Regions from separate parts of the Homo sapiens genome. Here region 1 is linked to region 2. Evidence: fine-mapped expression QTL. A gene starts in region 2. The other region holds a variant in brackets. All regions are shown on one strand. Distances are from middle to middle.

What was found. PIP is the estimated chance that this variant, and not a neighbour inherited with it, causes the effect. A credible set is the group of variants that fine-mapping cannot tell apart.
Region 1: its variant is the best candidate, but not a certain one, in a credible set for the expression of KAT6A in whole blood (TOPMed, PIP 0.72).

What each region holds. Positions count from the first base shown.
Region 1 is chr8:41,966,331-41,978,365 of GRCh38, forward strand. It overlaps KAT6A (lysine acetyltransferase 6A), which reads right to left. Exons shown (of 17, transcript NM_006766.5): 7 at 10,678-10,997; 8 at 8,374-8,492. Among named protein-coding and RNA genes, the nearest start is that of KAT6A-AS1, 79 kb to the right of the region's middle. The variant C/T (reference allele first, on the strand shown) is at 4,844.
Region 2 is chr8:42,045,776-42,057,810 of GRCh38, forward strand. It overlaps KAT6A (lysine acetyltransferase 6A), which reads right to left and starts at 6,212. Exons shown (of 17, transcript NM_006766.5): 1 at 6,126-6,212; 2 at 2,603-3,527. The coding sequence starts at 3,202. KAT6A-AS1 (KAT6A antisense RNA 1) reads left to right here and starts at 5,975. Exons shown (of 2, transcript NR_136589.1): 1 at 5,975-6,210. RefSeq lists silencers at 5,306-5,775, 5,876-6,505, 6,696-6,855, 8,816-9,110 and enhancers at 6,304-6,825, 6,826-7,346.

The DNA.
Region 1 (12,035 bases), 79 kb before region 2:
CTCACACCGTCAGAAGAGTTAGTACAGTACAATAGTACAATAAGAGATTTAGAGAGAGACAGACTACATTCATGTAACACAATACAGTACATACAGGGTTCAGTACAGTCCACGGTTTCAGGCATCTACTGGGGATCTTGGAGCGTATCACTGGTGGATACGCGGGGACTCCTGTATAGTAGTCATTGCTTCCTCAAAGCTGAAGTTAATGTTGTTTACTCCATCTGATAAGCCCTAGTTCTCTCCATCTACCTAAATCCTCATCATTCCTTAGGACTGCTGCTTCTGTGATCATCTCAGGTTGCGCCAATTCTCACACATCTTAGTATACTGTGAACATCTGAGACAAGTCTGAATCATTTAATACAGCAATGCACTATGTTTCATTGGTACTCTAAGCTATTGTCTGCTGTGTATCTTCCTATGCACCTTTACCTGCCTGCACTTAGCACATGCCTAATGATTTTGCTACCCCCATGACATCCCGTATACAGAATAATGCAGGATGTTATTGTGATTAAGGGTACAGAATTAGAAGTCACATGGCCTAAGTTTTAATTTCGGCTCCACTAACATAAAAACTTACAGGAAGTCACTGAACTAATAGTGTTGGTTTCCTCATATGTAAAATGGGGTAACACCTCTACATCATGGGGTTAATAAAGTTGTTGAAACTAGCTTACTGTATTTTTAATAATGATTTAACTCTTCACGCAAAGAAATTTTAATAACCCGCACAGATTTCAAAAATGCTCTGTAACTTTCCAGAACCATACAAAAACCAAAGGAATCCTTCAGAATCAGAAAGCATTAAAATCTGTATGAAAATACAATGTGCTCTTTGATATTTTATGTAAAAATCATTCTATATATTTCAAGAAGGTGGTCATGCTCCACTGGAATGAACTGAATACAAACGCGTCTTTCTTTTTTTAAAAAAAAAAATTTATTTATTTATTTATTTATTTATTTATTTTTATTATACTTTAAGTTTTAGGGTACATGTGCACAATGTGCAGGTTAGTTACATATGTATACATGTGACATGCTGGTGCGCTGCACCCACTAACTCGTCATCTAGCATTAGGTATATCTCCCAATGCTATCCCTCCTCCCTCCCCCCACCCCACAACAGTCCTCAGAGTGTGATGTTCCCCTTCCTGTGTCCATGTGTTCTCACTGTTCAATTCCCACCTATGAGTGAGAATATGCAGTGTTTGGTTTTTTGTTCTTGCGATAGTTTACTGAGAATGATGATTTCCAATTTCATCCATGTCCCTACAAAGGACATGAACTCATCATTTTTTATGGCTACATAGTATTCCATGGTGTATATGTGCCGCATTTTCTTAACCCGGTCTATCATTGTTGGACATTTGGGTTGGTTCCAAGTCTTTGCTATTGTGAATAGTGCCACAATAAACATACGTGTGCATGTGACAGAGATATAGATCAATGGAACAGAACAGAGCCCTCAGAAATAACGTCGCATATCTACAACTATCTGATCTTTGACAAACCTGAGAAAAACAAGCAATGGGGAAAGGATTCCCTATTTAATAAATGGTGCTGGGAAAACTGGCTACCCATATGTAGAAAGCTGAAACTGGATCCCTTCCTTACACCTTATACAAAAATCAATTCAAGATGGATTAAAGACTTAAACGTTAGACCTAAAACCATAAAAACCCTAGAAGAAAACCTAGGCATTACCATTCAGGACATAGGCATGGGCAAGGACTTCATGTCTAAAACACCAAAAGCAACGGCAACAAAAGCCAAAATTGACAAATGGGATCTAATTAAACTAAAGAGCTTCTGCACAGCAAAAGAAACTACCATCAGAGTGAACAGGCAACCCACAAAATGGGACAAAATTTTTGCAACCTACTCTTCTGACAAAGGGCTAATATACAGAATCTACAATGAACTCAAACAAATTTACAAGAAAAAAACAAACAACCCCATGAAAAAGTGGGCAAAGGACATGAACAGACACTTCTCAAAAGAAGACATTTATGCAGCCAAAAAACACATGAAAAAATGCTCACCATCACTGGCCATCAGAGAAATGCAAATCAAAACCACAGTGAGATATCATCTCACACCAGTTAGAATGGCAATCATTAAAAAGTCAGGAAACAACAGGTGCTGGAGAGGATGTGGAGAAATAGGAACACTTTTACACTGTTGGTGGGACTGTAAACTAGTTCAACCACTGTGGAAGTCAGTGTGGCGATTCCTCAGGGATCTAGAGCTAGAAATACCATTTGACCCAGCCATCCCATTACTGGGTATATACCCAAAGGACTATAAATCATGCTGCTATAAAGACACATGCACACAAATGCTTCTTTCTACTGACAGAGTCTTTTAAGAAAAATAGTTTCTCCAAGCTCGTAAGATCATAGTTGAAATAAAATTCTAGAACAAAAACCTATACTACTAATTTTTTTATGCTTCCACTTTTGTATTCAGAGGTGGCTCTTTTTCATGGAAGTGTATGTTGTATAGCTAATGATGGAACACAGTACTAGGCAAACTACATCCATACTTACCCTACTGCCTGCAATAATTTTTTAAAAAAATTAAAACCAATAAGTGGCTGACTCCTTTTGAAAAAAATCTTGCTAAATATTTCAATTATCTTTGACTTAGATAATGTTCCATGCAAAGTTTGATTATTCAAGATAGTCCCTTCCAGACTATAAGCTCTAAGAGAACAGAAACTATGTCCTTCTGATAGCCCCTCCCCGTACCATAGTTTCTAGAACATAGCAGGCACTCAATAAACAATGTGTTATTAGTTGGATGGATTCTAATATTAATTCCTTTATCATGTCTTTTGCTGATGCTGCTGTAAGACTACCAAAGACACTGTAATAAAATCTACCTGCAAAATTTTTGAAACACAGGTTCAAGCATCATCTAAGCTATATCTATGCTCTCAAAAATGACTTTCTGCACTATATTTATGAATCCTTTCATTATTCAAAATGTCCTCTTATCTAGTCAACATGAACTTTCCCAAGTGGCTTCAAACCACTTTCTTTATTAAATTAAGTCAGAGAACCTGGAAGTCATCTTTGATCATCTCTTGCTTCCTCAAGCTACACATAAAACTCATCACTAAGTTCTGCTGATTCCAACTCCAAAATATATCTAAATCCATCCACTTCTCTCCCATTTCTACCACCACCCCTCTAGTCCTAGCTAACATCTTCTCTCATCCTGATCACCGGAAAAGCCTGCAAAGTGGTTTCCCAGCTTCCACTCTTGCTTAATTCTAAACCACTCTTTATGTAGTAGCCAAGAAAAACCATTTTTTAATGAAACAGATCTTGCTGTTTCCTTGCTAAAAACCATTCAATGTCTTCCCACTGCAATTATGATAAAAACCCCAATTCTAACTTCTGGCCTCAGTCTATTTCCCCAGCTTCACCTTATGCAACTCTTCTGTTCACTGTATTTGAGTTACACTGAACTTCAGTTCCTTAAGTTTATCAACCTCTTTCACACCCTTAGACGTTTACATAGGCAATCCACTTGTCTCTGAAATGTTCTTCTCTAGCTCTTTACTCTGCTGACTTTTGAATACTCTTTTGGAACTATGTATAAATTGTTACTTCTTCAAAAGTCTTCCCTTCTCATAAACACTCCAACCCCAACCCTCAGCAAGGTAGCCCAGCCCGTCAGAACCCCTCACTGCATTCTCATTTCCTTCCGACTATCAGTTTGTAAGTACAGTTTTATTTTTATGAGTGTTTATTATCTGTCTGTTTGTGAAACTAAAAGCTTCATGAAGGCAGAGTCTGTGTCTTTTTGTTTGCCCTATAGTTCTGGTACCAAGGCAGGTGCATGATGCTAAATGAATAAGCCTCATGGAGAAATAGCACCATCATCAGAATTTCAGTGCACTGCCAACAAAAATAAGCATGAACTAGACTTCCAAGATCTAGCTGTTTATTTCCTTGGTGCCAATACACACACAGACAATGCTGAGTTTAATCAAATGCTGGAAAGAAACATAGGATTAGCCCGATTACTGTCAATAAGCATTTACACTGTCTCCCCGAGCCTCAGCAGGGCTCAGCAACCCGTTTAACTCTCTTTGGTCATCCTTCTTGCACCTTTCTATTATTTCAACTCCTGCCCCATTTCTCCCAGAAGAAAATTTCATTCAATATCCATTCATTAAACAAATATTTACTGAGCCTTTACTATATTCCAAGTACTCAGTAGATAGCAGTGACCAAAAAGAAAGGCCTCGTTCTCACTTTTACACTGTTGGTGGGACTGCAAACTAGTTCAAGAATCATGGAAGACAGTGTGGCGAATCCGCAAGGATCTAGAACTAGAAATACCATTTGACCCAGTCATCCCATTACTGGGTGTATACCCAAAGGATTATAAATCATGCTGCTATAAAGACACATGCACATGTATGTTTATTGCGGCACTATTCACAATAGCAAAGACTTGGAACCAACCCAAATGTCCAGAAATGATAGACTGGATTAAGAAAATGTGGCACATATACACCAGGGAATACTATGCAGCCATAAAAAAGGATGAGTTTATGTTCTTTGTAGGGACATGGATGAAGCTGGAAATCATCATTCTCAGCAAATTATTGTAAGGACAAAAAAACCAAACACCGCATGTTCTCACTCATAGGTGGGAACTGAACAATGAGAACACATGGACACAGGAAGGGGAACATCACACACCGGGGCCTGTTGTGGGGTGGGAGGAGGGGGGAGGGATAGCATTAGGAGATATATCTAATGTAAATGACGAGTTAATGGGTGCAGCACACCAACATGGCACATGTATACATATA[C/T]GTAACAAACCTGCACGTTGTGCACATGTACCCTAAAACTTAAGGTATAATTTAAAAAAAAAAAAAAAAAGAAAGGCCTCGTTCTCAAGGCACTTACATTCTAGAAATAAAAAATTTAAATTCAAGAGGTGGTAGGTACTATGCAGAAAAAGCAGGCAGGTCAGGGGATAGAGTGACACAATGGGCTGTAAGCTATTTTCGTGTGGATATGAGCAAGACCTAAATGGAATGGGCAGTGAACCTACTAAATCATCGACTCTAGAGGAAGGGCCATCGAGGCAAGGTGCAGCGACTGCAAAGGCCCAAGGCAGGCATGCTTGGTGTGTCTGAGGAAGAGGAGGCGGCTGTGGCTGGAGTAGCCTGAGAGCAAAAAGAGCAGCCAAAGAGGGAGGCAGGCACAAAATCATATACAGCCTTGGAGATGAGAGAACAGACTCTTTTTTTTTTTTTTTAATTCTAAAGAAGACTGTAAGACATGAAAGGTTTTCTAAGCAAGGAAGTGGTATAATCCAACCTACGTTCAAAAATAATTACCCTGGCCGCTGTATGAAGAAAATAGACTAGAGAGTGGGGTGGTGGCAAAAGCAGAAGCAAGTTTAGTCTGGAGGCAATTATAGCAGCCTAAGCCAGAGATGACAGTGGGTTGGCAGTAGCAAATACAGACATATTCTGAAGGCAGAACCATTAGGATTTGCTGATGGACTGAATGTGAAGTATGACAGAGAAAAAAAAAATCAAGATGACATCTCTGTGGGCCTAAGCAAGTACAGGATAGAGCTACCATTTACTCTTGTTCACCACTAAAAGCCAGAATCTATGGCTACAACAGTAAGAGCCTAGAACATCTTGCTGTGGCCAGAAGTAAATAAAAATGATGATGATGTGTTAAAAGGACAGAGGAGCTTCTAGAAAGGAGTTCCCCTCTGCCTAAATTTGGAACAATTTAAGCATCAAAATAAATACTAATAGCAATGGATTATAACCATAAAATAATCTATGAGTTTAAACAAAATGAATAAACAAATAGGAAGAAGAAAAAGCTTCTCCTTACAATAGAATGCCAATTAATAAATGGCAAAGAAATGATAGAATTAGAAAATAATGTTTGGCCACCAACAAAGTAAATGATTCAGGCAAAAATCATCTCTGGATGCTAAATGTGGTAGATAAAAGTTTGATGAAAAACAGGTTATCTGCATTTCTGTCTCAAAGTATGTCCCCCCAAGATACTTAATTATAGGTAGAAAGCAATGTTAGAGAAGAAACATGGATACCACCTAAACCAGGTGGTCACTGTTAGCAGCACTTGTGATGAGAACTTGGATATTACATGCCTTCTGATGTGACACACTGAGGAGGACACAGCACACCTGTGGAATTTTCTAATCATGAAAAATAAAACAAGCTCAAAGTGATGACATTCTATAAATGACCTGTGCACTTCAAAACTGTCAAGGTCATGAAAGATAAAGACTGAGGAACTGTTCCCAATTGGAAGGAGACTAGAGAGACGTGACAACTAAATTAGATAATAGTACTTAATTTGTGTTAAATTCCTGATTTGATGATTGGACCATGGTCATGTATGAGAACATTTCTGTTTTTAGGAAATACACACAAAAAATTAGGAGTAAAGGGATATTAACACATTATGTCTGCAACTTACTCGGGAGGAGAAAAAAAAATTCTTTCAGTCAGGAAGAACATAACTACTGCCTCCTTTCAGTTCCCACTGAAGTCCATGTAGATTTCTACTAGAGTACCTATAATAACTCACTAGCATGAAAGGAAACAAGCTTTGAGGGCAACCTGCCCAAAGGAGAAGTTAGTAAATGACAGATCAAGACTTGAACCCAGATCCACCTGAATCAAAGCCAATATTTTGTTAAATCATAATACAGCAGAATGCTGAGTAAATGCGTGCTGAGTATTTGTACTGCTGTTTTATTTTTCCAAAAGTACTCACATAATGACCGACATCAACAGTCTATTCACCACCACTGGGTCTCTTAATATGAAGAGTTTTCCCTAGAACCCTCGGCATCAGCCTTAGAATTTTTTTTTTTTTTTGAGATGGAGTCTCACTCTGTTGCCCAGGCTGGAGTGGTGTGGCACGATCTCGGCTCACTGCAACCTCCACCTCCCGGATTCAAGTGATTCTTCTGCCTCAGCCTCCCGAGTAGCTGGGACCACAGGCGTGTGCCACCGGCTAATTTTTGTATTTTTAGTAGAGACGGGGTTTCACCATGCTGGCCAGGCTGGTCTCGAATTCCTGACCTCAAGTGATCCACCCGCCTCGGCCTCCCAATGTGCTGGGATTACAGGGGTGAGCCACCGTGCCCAGCCTAGAAATTCTTCTTTTCAAGATAAAAGAGAACTTGGCTTACATGGTACATTTGTTGGTGGCAAAGAAGGAAAAGACAAAAAATAAATGAACATAATCTGGAAGAGCCTTTATGATCTAGCCCCTGCACTTTTCCAACCTCACCTCCTGCCATTCTCCACACCCTATATTCTTTATCCTGAGCCATTTTAATTCCCACAATTAAGCATGTTTTCCCCTATCTTCAAGTCTATTCCACCTTCACTTCTGTTCCTTCTGATTATATAAGAACCAACTCCCTACATATCCCTTTAAGGGATATGTACAACTCCTACATATCCTTTAAGGCCCCTCAATGAATCCTCCTCTGACCTCCCCAGGCAGAAGTAGAAGCTGGCTTCCCTATTCTCCCAAAACATCAAGTATTCTATAATTGAACTTTTCATATTAATGACATTACTTATTCACAAATCTCTCCTATAGTTCAGGGAAAGAATTCAGTCATTCACTGGCATCTCCAGCATGTGGCACATAGACTCTGTCTATATATTTACGATCTTGCCATGTGTCACAAAGAATTGCAATTTTTTTTTTTTTGGAAGACAGGGTCTCACTCTGTCACCCAGGCTGGAGTACAGTGGCATGATCTCAGGTCACTGCAACCTCCATTTCCCCAGCTCAAGCAATTCTCCTGCCTCAGCCTCCTAAATAGCTGTGACTACAGGTGTGCACCAACATACCTGGCTAATTTTTCTATTTTTTTTTTGAGATGGGGTTTTGCCATTTTGCCCCAGCTGGTCTCAAACTCCCAGACTCAAGCAATCCACCCACCTTGGCAAAGTGCTAGGATTACAGGCATGAAATACTTCTTGAATTAATAAATATAGGTGTTTTATCACTCATGAGAAGCTTGTTTTTTGTTTGTTTTTGGTCAAATCCCAAATTCTTCTTCATACAGTAAGACAAAAAATAAACCAAGCTTATTTAATATTGATAGTCAAAGCCATGTGCTTATCTGCAAAACCAAAGCAGTTATCATGGGTTTGAAAGGAATATTATAAACAGCAGAACTACATATACACACAAACCACAACTATTCTGAGATTAGGCAAACTGCTGTTACTGCTTAACCCACAATGTAATTAATCTGCTGTTTCTCAGCCATGAACAAGTTGCTTGATTGTCTAACCTGAATATCCAACTTTACCTGCAGTGCTTGTTCTTGGATATCACGAAATAATTCCATATCTTTCTCAGTCATGATTTCCTGGCTCCCAAAAAGTCGCTCCTCATTTTCTTGTTTGCCATCCCAGCCATCCTGATTGTCTACATATAAAAAAAGAGCTCACATGTTAACTGTCCCCAGATTAATACATGAACTAGAAAAAATTTCAGGTCTTTATTTCAATTTGAAGAACTTAATATATAACGAAGAATATAGCATTAAACTGACTCTTAGAAGAATGCTACTCAATAAATAATATTTATGTATTAAATCTGCCTTATAGTGGAAATCCTGAATTGTCTTAAAGCTTCCTAAAAATATTATATAACTAAATTTAAACTTCATTAAAGATTACATTTTAATACACAGAAAGGCAGACAGAAAAATGATATAAGGAATATAAATTTCATTTTGAAATAGTATAAATTTGACACTTTTAGTATAGGTTTAATGCATCAACGTTCAAAAAAACCTCTTGAGTAGCTACCTTAACTGATGTCAGCAGTACTAACTCCCATCACATTCTGGGTGCCCTTTTAAAGTTAAAGCACAAACTTTAAAACACTGTCCTTTTAAAGCACAAACTCTATTTACCCAGATGATAATCATCTGGGTAAATATGAAAACGTATGATAATTATCTACTAAATGATGGAACTTCCTCAAGTTGGCAAAAAACTAGTGAAGAGAGTATTTGGGACTTATGAAGATCATTATCCTTTGCATTTGAAGATGACACTGCTGTTGGGCTCATTTGCTCTCTTTATAAGTATGGCTGAAAAGACCAATTGGTGACAGTTCTCAAGTCAACTGCACATATGGGCCATCTGTTATTAACTTAACACAAGAAGAAAAAAGTCAAGGACTCACTGTTGACAACATTCTCAAACTGGAAGAAAAAAGTACAATCTAAAGGTACTATGTGACTTTAATGCCCCCTAGTGCATGATGCATGCACCTCTCTAATACAGCATTCGGTACTTAAACTTTATAATTCATAAAGAAAATGACAGAGCCTATTAAAGCAAACGCTCACACCACTGTCAAAAATTCAATATTGGTTCTCCATATACTTGATACACTTGCTCTAACAATTTCTATTTCAAAAGCTTTCTAGTAGATTCTTCTAATAAACCGTCTCCAGTACAAATGGTTAATTCAAAAATGTCTTTCATTAGGATTTGCTCTGAGATTCTTTCCTAGTTTAATCTAAACGGATTGCATATTTTCTTAGATAAACATGCTCAGATCAGGAACTTATCTACAGGTTGATAAAGACATGAAGAGTCTTGAATGCTTAAAGAGTAATTAGTTGATCATCACTATGGTAAAAGACCAATCAATAAAGCATACAAAGGGGACTCTGACAATTACAAGGACTTTCTCTCCTGCACTGGACAATCAACCACGAATGAGAGCAGTGAATACACTCTCCCTCACCAAGGAGACATTCAGGGAGGAAACCAAGGTCAGGGAATTCTCTTGTAGTAGATGAGACACTACACCTCTGGCCCTTGTGGTCCAAAAGAGTTCATTCTCATTCTACTTTCTTCAAGCCCTTTCTACTTCCTTCACAGGGTTAGTATCTCTAAATTCAAGGCTCAGCAATAAGACTATTTTAAGCTTTAATTTATTGGACAGTTAATCAAATTCTTCTCCTCTGACTTGAATGATTTGCCACATTATTAAGTCCTCTCCACAGATGTTTTCTACTTTGAAAATTAGGGAACTTAGCCTGATACATAAGCAGCCTGGAGCTGTGGTTCTGTCTCTCCCTTTTTAAGTGCAATCCATGACTTACAACTATATTTGTCAAGATCTGAAGTAGAAAAGTCAATGACCTCATCACATCTGCAAATATTTTGGTCTTTTTTTTATGCTTAGATCAACAGCATTTCACCCAGTTCTATTCTTTCCAGTTTCCTTCCTGGAATAAGCAGGCATCATAACATTCACCATATGATTTCTTTAGTAATTTGTGAAATGTAAAGTAATCCTCAAGGTTACACCCCAAGTTTCTCTAGGCAGATTCTTTGTGGTTCTACAAAAAAGCAGCTTCCTTTTGCCTAAGAGTTCCTACTGTCCCATTCTGCAACTTTATTTCCATCCTCTAAATTCCTGCCACAGTTATCACCTCAGTATCATCTACATGTTTTTTCAATGTGTTCTTATATTCTATAACCAATTGTTAATAATCAAATATAAATCCATTATAGATAATTAGTGTTATCCCGAATAATACATGTACAGAATACTATTTGTTTCTAAGTCTGTTCTAAACTCTTACCTGTGGGCCAATCTGAAGTGCTTGATTTCCTGTTGCCCCTCTTTCTGATTCGATATTGCTCAGAGTAGTCCACCACTTCCCCCCGAGCTTTCCGCCCATCAGGGGAAGGGGTAAAAAATTTGGTAAGGCCATCAATGAGCCCTTTGGTTTTCTTGTTGAACTTCAAGGAGACATTGCTATCTCTGCAGAAGTCCAAGCCATCTATCCGCTCTAAATATCCTTCTTCTGATGATGATGATGCTGATTGGCTGGAAAGAGTGATTTTTCGTTTCCTACCCCTTCCAGGGCCAGTTCGAACTTTGCTGAAGGGACCTTTTGATCTAAACAATTAAACAGGGGAAAGGGTAAGTATTAAAAAAGATACTTGTAAGGTTCCTTTTTAATACATAACATATAATTAGTAAGTAACCTACAGCTTTATTAAAATCTATATTATTAAGAATATTCTGCAAACTATAAATAGTACTCTGTGAATGAAAATTAATATTATTATTAGAAACATCTATTGCCAGGAAGCCTACTTATAGTGCAAAGAATGACAGGCCAGGAGTCAGAAGACTTGTTCTAGTCATAATTCTCTCTTACTAGCTGTACGACTTGGACAAATCACATTTTTTCTAAACATATGTCAGTGCCTTCATCTGTAAAATGAGAACTGGACTAAGAACAACTAAGATCCTTCCAGGTATAAAGTTCTACTACACTGTGATCTCTGCACCAACTGAAAGTTATACTTTTATCTCTAAAACACAAGGATGGGTTATTCTTCGAAGGCCAGGAATCAAAAGATCATTTTATAGGAAAATCAAAGCTTGATTTAAGATTTTGAATATAGACTACAATATTGGTTCTGTACATTTCAGGCTGCTAATGCCCATTCATTTCAGTTATATCACCTTCAAGATAGTCTTACGTGTAAAAAAAGTAAGTAAAACTTTTGATAATAAAGGGAGGTTGACAAGCCTGAAGACGTTTACATATCATCAAAGGTGAGTTACTACAGACATTTTTAAAAAGACAAAACTAGCTACTGAATCTTGCCCCACCTCCTCCAGACATAGCCCAGCTTTCTAGTCCACAATTTCTGATTTCTGCTAATAGATGAAAACATTCAAATTATTTTACATCCAAAGAACACAAAAATGGGACTTAGCCATCACCTCAATAGGAAGAACCTATCCAGTGATTTGTACACCTAATAGATATTAACAACTGAGACAAGATCAGGAGAGTGACATGTGAAATGTCACAGTAACAACTTTTTCTTTCCTGTTTTTATATAAGAGAAGCAACATAAAGCAATGGTTAAGAGTCAGACTTTGGTGCCAGACTACTCGGATTTTCATCCCAGTTCAACA
Region 2 (12,035 bases):
AGCCTAGCCAACATGGTGAAACCCTGTCTCTACTAAAAATACAAAAAAAAAAAAAAAAAAGTAGCCACACGTGGTGGCGCAAACCTATAATCCCAGCTACTCAGGAGGTTGAGGCAGAAGAATCGCTTGAACCCGGGAGGCGAAGGTTGCAGTGAGCTGAGATCACACCACTGCACTCCAGTCAAAGCAAAACAGCACATCTCTACTGAATTAAACTTTTCTTAATGCAAAGGTGCTATGAAATGGTCTCAACAAAGGTCCTTAGCTCAGCTGCAAAATAAGGACTTGGATTAGACGGTTCTCAGGGTCCCTTCCAAAAGTAAAATCTCAGGGTTCTAGGACTTGGATTTGTCTTGCACTGTACTATATTTACTACCTTTTAAAAATATGCTCAAATGACATTTTTATATAGCTAATATTTTTTAAAATTATCTATTGATAATTCAAGCAAGTGTAATTACAATAAAAGCAAACAACAGGCCAGGCACGGTGGCTCAAGCCTGTAATCCCAACACTTTGGGAGGCAGAGGCGGGTGGATCACTCGAGGTCAGGAGTTCGAGACCAGCCTGGCCAACAAGGTGAAACCCCGTCTCTACTAAAAATACAAAAATTAGCCGGGCGTGGTGGTGCATGTCTGTAATCCCAGCTACTTGGGAGGCTGAGGCAAGAGAATCGCTTGAACCTGGGAGGCGGAGGTTGCAGTGAGACTGCACCACTGCACTCCAGCCTGGGTGACAGAACGAGATTCTGTCTCAAAAATAAATAAATAAAAGCAAACAGGTGGCCTAACAGGAACTTATAACATCCAATTCACAGGTATGGCACTGAACTGATCTAACTATAAATTATTTCCTGTTTCCAGGCAGTTAACCTGTTAGATCATTTAATAATTGTAGAAATCCGATAACTGTATTTAAATTCAGCCACATGTGATAAAGTTTCTACAGGTAAGAGTTCTTACAGCACTTAAATATAGAATAAAGCATTTTAATTACTTGTCTACCCTGAATTTTTAATATATACTTTTAATAAATGCTCAAATTACATAGAGCCATTTTATGAATGAGATTCTCTATCAATTCATGACTGTATGAGAATCATTTCAAGGGTAATAACAGTAAGATTATGTTTTATTTCAATGTTCACAGGGAAAATTGAACCCTGAAATAGATCTCTAAAAATTTCATCAAAGAAAAATACCGTTAATTTTCAATTGTTAAAGAAAAATCTACAGGTATTCAGTGGGCTGCTAATAATACAACAAATTGAGATCAAATCTCCAATTTTCAAAATACATTCAATGTTAACTTTACCATCTTTCCACCCTAGGAGTATCCTCCATCATCTTAAGCAAAATGAAGATCATTTTACTTATGTCTACCAAGGTGTGCAGCAACTTAAAGCATCACTGCTCTCCAAGGAACTATAATTCAGAGCACCTTAAGTAAATTTACAGCTAAGATACTAGGTCAATGTAAAAAACAGGTACTAACAAAATTCTCCTAATCTCCAAATATCTATTTAAGCACCAAAATTTACTGTTTAAGAAGTCATAATTTCAACTATATACAATAACATCCTAAAACACAACAGAGTAAAGTACACATCTGGGCATCAAAACTCCCAACTCTCCAGAACTTTACCTTTCTTTTTGTTTTTAGAACAGGGTCTCAGTTGTCCAGGCTGGAGTGCAGTGGTGACAGCATAGCTCACTGGAGCCTCAGACACCTGTACTCAAGCAATCCTCCCCGACACAGCCTCCCAAGTAGCTAGGACTACAGGCGCGCCCATACCTGGCTAATTTTTCTATTTTTGGTGGACGTGGGGTCTCGCTATATTGCTCAGGCTGGGCTCAAACTCCTAGGCTCAAGACATCCTCCTGTCCCAGCCTCCCAAAGCGCTGGGATTACAGGCATGAACTACTGTTCCAGACCCTCCAGAACTTTTCTAGTTTAGGATACTGTATTCCTGTCCCATGCAACTACAGCTGTCATAAATAGCATTTAGGACTTCATCATATGCAAAGCCATAATACATGACAGAAAGCTATAATACAAACAGCAGAAACAAGAATTGCTAAGTTTGCTTAGTTGCGCCTATGGGTCATGAGAATCTGTCTCATTTCTGTCTAACGAGTAATCTGCAACAAAATGGAAAACAGAAAAATGTTCTCAGAGTCATCTGCTTGTTTCAAATTCAAGTCTCCATGATTTGGCTGCTCATCAACTTCCAGTAGTAAGGTGTTCTAAGAACCTTTAGTTAAAGTTTTAAAGTCTCACGCTGGAGTACTCCTCAAGCAAAATAATAAAAAAAAATTTAAAAAAAAGTTTTAAACTCATATGTCACTTTTTCATTGTAATGTAAATAAGTTCTTTTAGTCAGATTAACATTCTACATTTTTAATCTTAGGCTTCAAATATTTCAAAGTACCAGAACAAATCTATGAAGCTCTCATAGCTACAACTCACCAATAAAAAACCAGAGGTGATCACTCCACAGAAGTCCCCAAACAAAAAACTTGAATATAACTTCCCAGAAATGTGAATTTGTAGCATCCTATATCATCAGCTCTATAAACCCCGAAGCATATGCCATTCTTACCTTATCCTTTTCATGTGGAAGAAGGGACACTGGAGGTAAACAGGAAAGAGACTCACAACTCTCTTTCCCATCCACGTTGGTTGCTTTAGTGTTGAGCCGATAAAGAGGTCCATCTTTAAGGAGTCTGCCGTGGCCAATGGCACGTTTGATAGCCAATCGTAACTGCTGGTGAAAGCCAGAGGCAGCACTGCCTCCGAATAATGCAGACACATCCTTCTGACCTTTCAAAAAACGTTCAATGCTTTTCAAAGTTGAGCCACCAGACTCTGCCAAGCCCTCAACTGCCCGCTTTATCAGTTTATTCCAATCCACATTTTGTTTATTATCCAATTTTCCATGGTTCCGAGGCTTAGGAAGTGCTATTCGCCCAGGATTATCAGGATCTTTATAGGAATTGAGTCCTTTATTTGAGACTTTTAAAATTGTTCCATCTTTAACACTCAACTCCAATTGTTCTAAAACAGTTTTACGATCCAAGCCATGGGATGAAGACACAGCATTGCATATCCTTTCTTCTGAAGGACGCTGTTTCTGCTTTTTCACTTTTTTGATGGCCTCCAAAATCCACTCAGTATAAAGCGGGTTTGCGAGTTTTACCATGGTGAAGGATTCTGTATATCCATAGAGTCGTTATCCCTTATCCTGATGCTGAGTAAGTTTTACACCATGGAAAACAAGATTCTCGGAGGCTGGGAACCAGTTAACCATAGCATATGAGTTTTCTGGCCTAAGTCCTTCCTCCTTTCACAAAACAGAATGCCACCCCAATTGTACTATAGAAACCAAAACAACCTGTTGATTGAAATGTCTTCCAACTTCCCAATGAATTTCTCAATAGCACCACACATGGGTCTCGTCATAAAGTTGTAAGAACTCAAGAATATTTCATTCCCGGCTCCAGAGCAGAAAAATGTGCATCTTATGCCTGAAAAGCAATGAAAATAAGGTCAGTTTTCTACCAAGACCTATTTCGAATGAAAATAAGCATCCTCATCATAAAGCAATCAAACAGCAAGTGTTTACTAGGCACCCTTAAGAATTTCCAAACTTATCTATTAATATTCCAAAACAATCATGTATGTAAACCATTGGGATAAAAAAGAAAAAAAAAGAAAAGAAAAAAAAAAGATGAGTAATTAGGATACAATGAGGAAACACGATGACATGTTCTAAGAATGACCTTTAAGCTACCACTAACCAGAGTGGGTGATGGCTATTCTGTACTCCGCAATCTCTGCTCACCAGTCTAGGAATTTCAACTCTTCCTTGACATCTTTCCCCAAGAAACTAGTCAGCACTTCAACAAGTATCTGGATTAGTAGAAAGAATCCTGCAATGAAAGTAAAAGTGAATCTTTCATCTTTCAAAATTCTAGACATTCAGAGTAGACAAAAACAGTCAATAAGGCAGAAAACGACTGAGAAAATTTTAGTTCTTACATGAAAAGAATGAATACAATATGCACACCCAGTTTATAATTTAAGTACAGTATTACCTTAATCTCTCCTAATGGAAACAAAAATACTATTGAAAATAGCCTAGAGTAAAAGTGCTTACTGAATTTAACAATAATCCACTTTCATTCAAATTTTAAGAATTACATGCTGATAGCTTCTCCTAACCCAAACTAAGATGTTTCTATTCATATGCTGAAGAGAGTCACAACTGTCAAACTGCGTGTAAGTAATTCAGACAGGAAAACTAGAAATGAGGAAGGCCCAGAATCACTGGGGTCAACGCACATACTACATATCAAACGGACGGTACAGAAAAAGAAATACACTGGCTACTTGTAGGACTAAAGAGAAGCCCAAATAATAAAGATATAAATTCAAGATTGCTGTCCTGAAACGAACATTAATAAAACATAAACAGAAATGTACTGTCTCTCTGAATCAAAGTCAGTATCCCTATAAAAGAATCTGGTAGATGCAATCTTGTTTAATCACTAAAGTACTGAATTCTGAATCTAACTCTTTTGCCTCCAAAAATAAGTTTAACTGAAGTGTTTTTTAGAACTTCTGCTCTCATTCTGGAGATCATTTGCATTACAATATAAACAATGCTAGACAAATGGCTCCCACAGCAACTATTCTTGGTAGTGACATTAAAATCAAACGGAAAACTAATACACACTAGGAAAGAGATATTACTATTAACTCTGATAGGAAAGAAAAGAGTGAAGCAAACATTCAAACCTGAGCCAAGATTTGTTTTTAAATCAGCTGCCTAAAAAGAAGCCCCCTGGGAGAATCATGCTTCAATTTGGTGAGGGTCTCAAGAGGATAGAAATCAGAGTATCATTACTCCAAGTAAGCTCATTATACAGATATTAAGTCTAAACTAAATGAGAAGCTACATCCTGAGTTTAACAAGCTGGGAACGAACGTCCTAATTGACTAAGCTTCGCAGGTAAAAGAATGAGTGACAGTCACTCATTGTCTTTCCAGTCGGGATTGTCATCAGTCTCCAGGTCTTCGGAAAGTCAAGCGCCTGCAGCCTCGGATCTTAACTCCCGGAAAGTACACGAGCGGCTAGAGCGAGCGCAACTCGCTTCCGACAGTCCTTCCCGTCCCCATTCCCCACCCCTAAACACGTCTTCGCGCTCTCTTTTCAAAGAGCGAGAAACTTTAAAAACTTGGATCTGCACAGCCCGGCAGCTCGCCGACGGGGCGCTGCACCGTTTCCACGCGATGGAAACAGACCCCGAGCACAAGTTAACAATGAAATCACGTGAAGGAGTTCAGAGCGGTGCATAGCCCCGGCCCAGCTCCGCACCCTAAGCTCTGGGGGCCGGCTCGAGGGCGGCGCGGGTTGCTGGGAGCCTGACAGTCGCGCACCGGGCCAAGCCGCGAGGTTGACAGGCGCCCGGCCTCCCCTCGGCGGCTGGGCTGACAGCCCGGCAGACACAACACCACACGTGCTGCGCCTCGCACCACAACACCCGCCGGCCTGTCAGCCCCGCTCGCCGCCTCAGCCCCGCTCGGATCCCCGCGCCCCCGGCCGGAGCCAAAGCCGGAGCCGGAACCCGAGCCCGAGCCCGAACCCGAGCGCCCGCGAGCGCGGGGAGAAGCGGCCCGGCCCGGCACAGCCGGCACGCGCGCGGCGGGCGGGTGGGCGCGCCCCGAGGGAGAGCGGGCTCGCCGGCTCCGCCAGCCCGAGGCTCCGCGGCCTGGGCCGCTCGCCGCCCGCCCACCCGCCGGCTCCCCCAGGGCGGGCCCGGCCGGCGGGATCGGGGGCGCGGGGCCCGCGAGCGCGGGGCCGGGCGGCGGCGCGCGGGCCGCGGGCCGGGGCAGCCGGGCGCCGAACAAGCGAGCAAGCGAGCGAGCGAGCGGGCGGGCGCGAGGGGGCGGCCACGGCGCCCCAGCCCGAGGCCTGGCGCAGAGCAGCGGGAGGCGGCGCAGGCCGCGGCGGGGCCTGCAGCGGCCCGCCGACCCCGCGAGGCAGCGGAGTGGGCCCTGGAGCGGCTCGGCCTCGGGCTGGGCGGCCGGGGGCGGCCGGGAACGGCCCCTCGGCTACTTACCGGGAGGAAGGACAGCCGAGATCCCGGGGCCCCGGGCCGGACCGCGGAGATGCCCCAAACTGACACGGCCGCCATCTTGGAGACAGTGAGCTCCAGCCGGGGGGAGGGGAGGCAAGGCGGCGGAACAGCCGCGGGGGGAGGGGAGCGTCGCGAGGGAACGGCGGCCTGGGGGAGGGAGCTGGAAGAGCCTGGGCGGGCGGCGAGGGGAGGCGGAGGCCCGGCAGCGCGGGTGGGGGGCGGCCGAGAGCGGGAAGAGCTGGGCCGAGAGCCGGGAAAGGCCGGAGGGCGGGGCGGGGCAGCAGGGAAGAGCCGGCCGGCGGGGTCACGTGGGGCCGGTACAAAAGGCCAAAGCCAGGGGAGGAGGAGGACTTGGTGGGGCTGGAGGCTGGGGAGCGGGGGTTCCTCCTCTCCCGTCTCACGCGTTTAAGTCAGACGGCGACCCGGGAGAGGAGGAGCTGGTGCACCCCATGCCACCGCTGGGGAAACTGAGGGCAGGAGTCTGGGTGGGGTGGCTTCAGTGTGGCACGGAAATCCGGCAGCCACGCAGGATGGGAACTCTCGGCGGCGTCTGTTTACAGTTAGTGAGCCCTCCCTCCCCACTCATTTGCCTGCACAGCGACTTTCCGGAGCCCGAGGGCGGGGCCTGGGGGGCGGAGAGGAGGCGGCTTCCCGTCCTCACCCCTGGCAGCTCGCCTCAGCCCCCGACGGCTCTCCTGTGTCGGTGGGAAGAGTTGGGGAGAGGGTGGAACCAGAAGCACCCGTCTTAACCCCTTTCAGCAGTGACTTCATTTCTTCCCTCCCCCAGCAGCTGAGAGGGTTCTTGGAGCTCACTAGAGCCATTTTATGGGAGACTCCACAGACCTGGGTCGTGTGACTTGGACAAGGTCACACAGCTAGTATGTGGCGCGCACCTGAGCCTGGGACTGAGATTTGTCTTATTCCAAAGCCGGTCTTCCCTTCTTGCCCTGTGCGGAACTCTTGTCCATACTTAGGGCGTTGGAACCACGAGCAGGCGGTTCTTCATGGCCTGCCTGTCCACTACTGGCTGTATGGACGTTTCTTTGTCTTGCCTTTCATCTACTTTAAACTCTTTGATGCAGAGACTGAGTCATACTTTTTTTTTTTTTTTTGAGACAGTGTCGCTCTGTTGCCCAGGCTGGAGTGCAAGTGGTGCGATCTTGGCTCACTGCAACCTCCGTCTCCTGGGTTCAAGCGATTCTCCTACCTCATCCTCCTGAGTAGCTGGGACTGCAGGCGCCCGCCACCACGCCTGGCTTATTTTTGTATTTTTAGTAGAGACGGGGTGTCACTATGTTGGCCAGGCCGCTGGTCTCGAACTCCTGACTTCAAGTGATCCGCCCTCTTCGGCCTCCCAAAGTGCTGGGATTACAGGCCTGAGACACTGCACCTGGCCAAGTCATGCATTTTTTTTTTTTCTGCATTCACTAGAAAGACAGTAGACATGAAAAAGACACTAAATGTTTAATCGTTGACATGGACGTGTATCCTGCTGCCTGACCTTTATCTGCCCTGTCCCCAACCCCATACGACACACCCCGCCTAGACTGTCGCCCGCAATACCTCATTTTATCTCAGCTTTAGCTTTTAAGGGCCTCCCTCTCACCCACTGCCTTAACTTCCATGCTGACTTCCTTTTCTGAACTTCTGTAGTAGTATCATTTGCTCTAGTCATTTTGCACTTACATGTGATATATATATATATATATATATATTCCGAATACATTCACTGGTAAATGCTCTCCTATAATGACTCTGCATCTCCAGCACCTAGAATAATGTTGTACAAGTACTGTAGTAGGCGGTTTAAAATAAAAAAATGTTGCTCGTGAATGAACAATTTTTTAAGCCGTTAAGAAAGCCGTTTGTGGCGGGGCGCTGCTGTAGCCCAGCTACTCGGGAGGCCTGCTTGAGCCCGGGAGTTCCAGGCTGCAGTGAACTATGATCGCCACTACACTCCAGCCTGAGAGACACAGCAAGAGGGAACCCAAACTTTTCTATCTATCCCGTCTCCACTCTAATCCATAGCCCTACCCTCCATACGGTAGACTCTGGACCATTCAGTAAGAATAACGTAACTTTTCAGATCATGGTCCAGCCTAATCAATATCCTGACACTGACAGAAACAGAAGTGTAATGTAGTGAGGTTGACTGAGTTGCCATTCATCGCCTACTTCCAAGCCCCATCTCCAAAGCAGTAGAGAAATTTGGAATACATGATAATCCAATAGAAAGGATCTCTTTCATCCTAGATGAATCAGATAGACACATTCTCAGGTAAAATGGTCCCTGTTTGTAATGAAATCACCTCCAGGAAAAAAAAAAAAAAAAAAAAAAAAAAAAATATATATATATATATATATATGTATTTTCTTTTAGTAGAATAGGCAGATTTTTATTTCCCAAAGAGGGCAGATAAAGTCATATTAATGCAAAGACAATGAGTTCTTCATGTGAGACTAGAGTGTGTGGCCTTCAGAAGAAAAATAATACAGAGATGAGTTGTGTTTACTTTTGGATAATTTGGAAGAAAACTAGCCACAGCCATCCTGTGAAAAGACCAAACTGGGGATTAAACAGTAGCAAGAATTTAAAACAATTTATAACAACAAAGCACAGTTGAGCTTTTCACACAGCTTCCATAAAGAGTCTCTGCTTTACATTTGCATAACTAAATGGCACATTCAGGAGGTCTTCTCAAAATAAAAATCTTGCAACAAAGACGGATTAAAGTCCTCATCATTTGCAAGTTAAAAAGCAATCTGCACTCTGAAAGGATAGTTTTTCTTAGCTCAAACTTTACTCACGATTCAGCCCTGTGGAGCTGGCAACTAAAGGTTATTTCCCCCTTGCATATTTTGCTCTAGGAATCCCTGCCTTTTCACTTGTACTTGGTACTTGTGTCTTATACAGAGTCCATGCCAGCCTGAAATTGGAAGTTTGCTCTGTCCTGGTTTCAACAGGAAACATTTTTAGTCCATTTACATTTAATATAATTACTGGTATATGTGGATGTATGCCTACCATCTTACCATTTATTTTGGATCACCTATTTCACATTCCTTGTTCTCTGCTTTTTGCCTTCTTTTGAATTAATTAAAATATTTTAACTATATCATTAACCCCCTCTATTAATTTTTAAATTATACATTACTAGTTTTAGAGATTACAACATTGCTTTTTGACTTATGATCTTATACAAAATAATTACTTTTACCACTTCCCCGGGAATGCTAAGACATTAAAATACTGTATCTCCACCTACCCATCTCCCTTTTGTGTTTATTGTCGTCAAGGATTTTAATTGTGTGTGTATTTTAAGCCACACAAGAATTTATACTTATTGTTCTGTACAATAAGTACTCATTTAGATTAACCTCCATATTTATCCTTATATTGCTCTTCATTCCAATATGCATTTCTGTGCTTCTGTCTGAAGGTTTTCCTTCTATTTGAATAATTCCCCTGTTTTACAGCAGGTCTGCTGATGACAAGTTCTCTCCAAGGTTGTTTGAGTTTTTGCTTTTTGTTTTTTGTGGGGTTTTATTGCCTAAAACTTTGCATTATCCTTCATATTTTTGCTGGGTATAGCATTCTGATTTGGCAAGTTTTTTTTGTTTTTTGGTTTTTTTTTCCCAGCACTTTGAAGATGTTCTTCCATTGTCTTCTGGTTTCTGTCACTCCCTTTTATTCCTTTGAAAGTAATGTCTTTTTTCCTTTGACTCCTTTTAGGATTTTTTCTTGTCTTTGGTTGTCAACAGCTTTACTATGACGTGTGTAGATGTGGTTTTCTTTGTATTTATCCTACTTGGGTTCATGAGTGCAATGGGTGTATGCGGAGTCCCTTGCATTTGTGGGTTTATATCTTTTAGGAAATTCTTGATCACTGTCTCTTCTCTCTCCTTTCCTTTTAGGGTTTAAATTATACATATGTCAGAATTTTTCATTGTTTACCATCTGTATTTCCTATCATCTTTTTTCCCCCATTTTTTTCTCTATGCATGAGTCGGTATATTTTCTATTTAATTGTGTACTTTTAAACCCATTTGTGAATTCTTTATTTTGTTTATTATATTTTTAAGTTCTAGAATTTTCATACGATTCTTAAAATCAAATTCATTTGGAGAAATTATTTATTTATATATGTATTTTCTCTGCTGTTGCCTTTATTTTCTTGAACATATCAATCCTAGATTTTTTTTTAACCCTAGATATTTTAAAGCTCTTTCCAATCATTACAATAGCTGAATCTTCTGTGGATCTATTTCTATTGTATATTCTTTCCATTGGTTTCGGTCATTTTTTTTCCTGGCTCTTAGCTTGCCTGAGAATTTTTAATAGGATGTCACACTTTCAAGTATGAAAAATTGCAGAGGCTCTGGATAGTATTATCATCATCCAGAGAAGGATTCCTACTGTCCTTTGCAAAGCATTTAGAGTGAGAGCTAACCACCTTAATCAACCAGAGACTGAGTTAACTTGGGGTTGGGTTTTGGCAAGATTTAATTCACCTCTTTTTTGCTGCTGCTCCAGTAGCATAAGCCTCCAGGGGTTCCAACTGAGAGTCGTGTGTGTTCCCTGGGACCCTTCATCCCAGTGGATACTGAACTCTAATTCTTGTTTCTGCAAAACCATGAGACGGTCAAAATCTCTTCACTCTGCTTTTCAGAGCCTTTCTGCTAAGCTTCTTAACCTTCTGTCTCATGCATCTTCAGAATTTGGAAAATGACTTGAGGGAGACTGACATTATTGGGCTCAATTATTTACCCCTCCCTTCTCACTGGGAATCTGGCCCCTCTTGTTCTTAAGTTTGTCTCTCCAACTCTGCTGAACTGACAGAATCATCCCTGGTGGTGTCTTTGCCTGTTAGGGCCTCTTTCTATACTCAGAACCAAAACTCAGACTCTGGCCTTATGCCCAGAATTTCCCCAAGGAATGAAGGTACTGCTGAATGTCAGCTCACCTCTATGTATAGTTTCCCCTTCTCTGAGATTGTGTCCTCATAAGTTCTGGTTGCCTCAGCAGCCTTCAAACAGATGTTTTATGTTTTAGCTGGCTCTCCTAATTGTTTTCAGCTGGATTATTGGTTGGCTATAAGTACCCCCATCGTACTCAGAACCAGGAAATGTTTTTCATATGAAATGATCTTGCCTTCCCCCTCAGTAAAAAAAAAAAAATGTCTGAACAAGGCTCTGCTTGAGGTATCAAGATATGGTTTACAACACTCTCAGTGTATCAGAATCATCTCAGTACTTTTTAATAAGTAAAAGAGTCCAGAATTCCACACCAGACCTACTAGATCCGAATTTCTGAGAGATTAATTTGGCTCTGTATTTTAAAATGCTTTCCAGGTATGAACATTTGCTCTGACAACAATTGAGTCATGGGGACTGGATTTATCCTTCCCTCTTAAACATCTGGAAAAAAAATAATAATGGTTTTCTGACAAAATATATGAAACAATGGTTTTTAGACATTGGACAATAGACAGTGTAGGACAGTGATTAAGGTAAGAGAAGTAAACAAGTTGAGCCATCTAATTGCCCCAGCCTACTGCCTTGCAACAGTTTCCAGACCATGGGACAGGCAGTGGCAGAGCCCAAAGCCCAGCAATACTGCTGACTTGAGGAGACAAATATCAGGCTTCAGGGAGGCCGACGTAGCTAAAGTTTGGAGGACAGAGAACCAGAAAGGGGAAAGCTACATATGTATATACAACTCCAAATATCTACAGAGGGGTCCTTTTGCTTCTTTGGATGAGCATTGATTTGCACATATTTAAGAAGAGACTAATTGGAAACTAATTGGGAAAACAAACCACCAAAAAAGGGCAGGAAAAACAATTCCCAGAGCTCCCATATGAATGGAAATTGTGCCTGTTTTCACCAGCC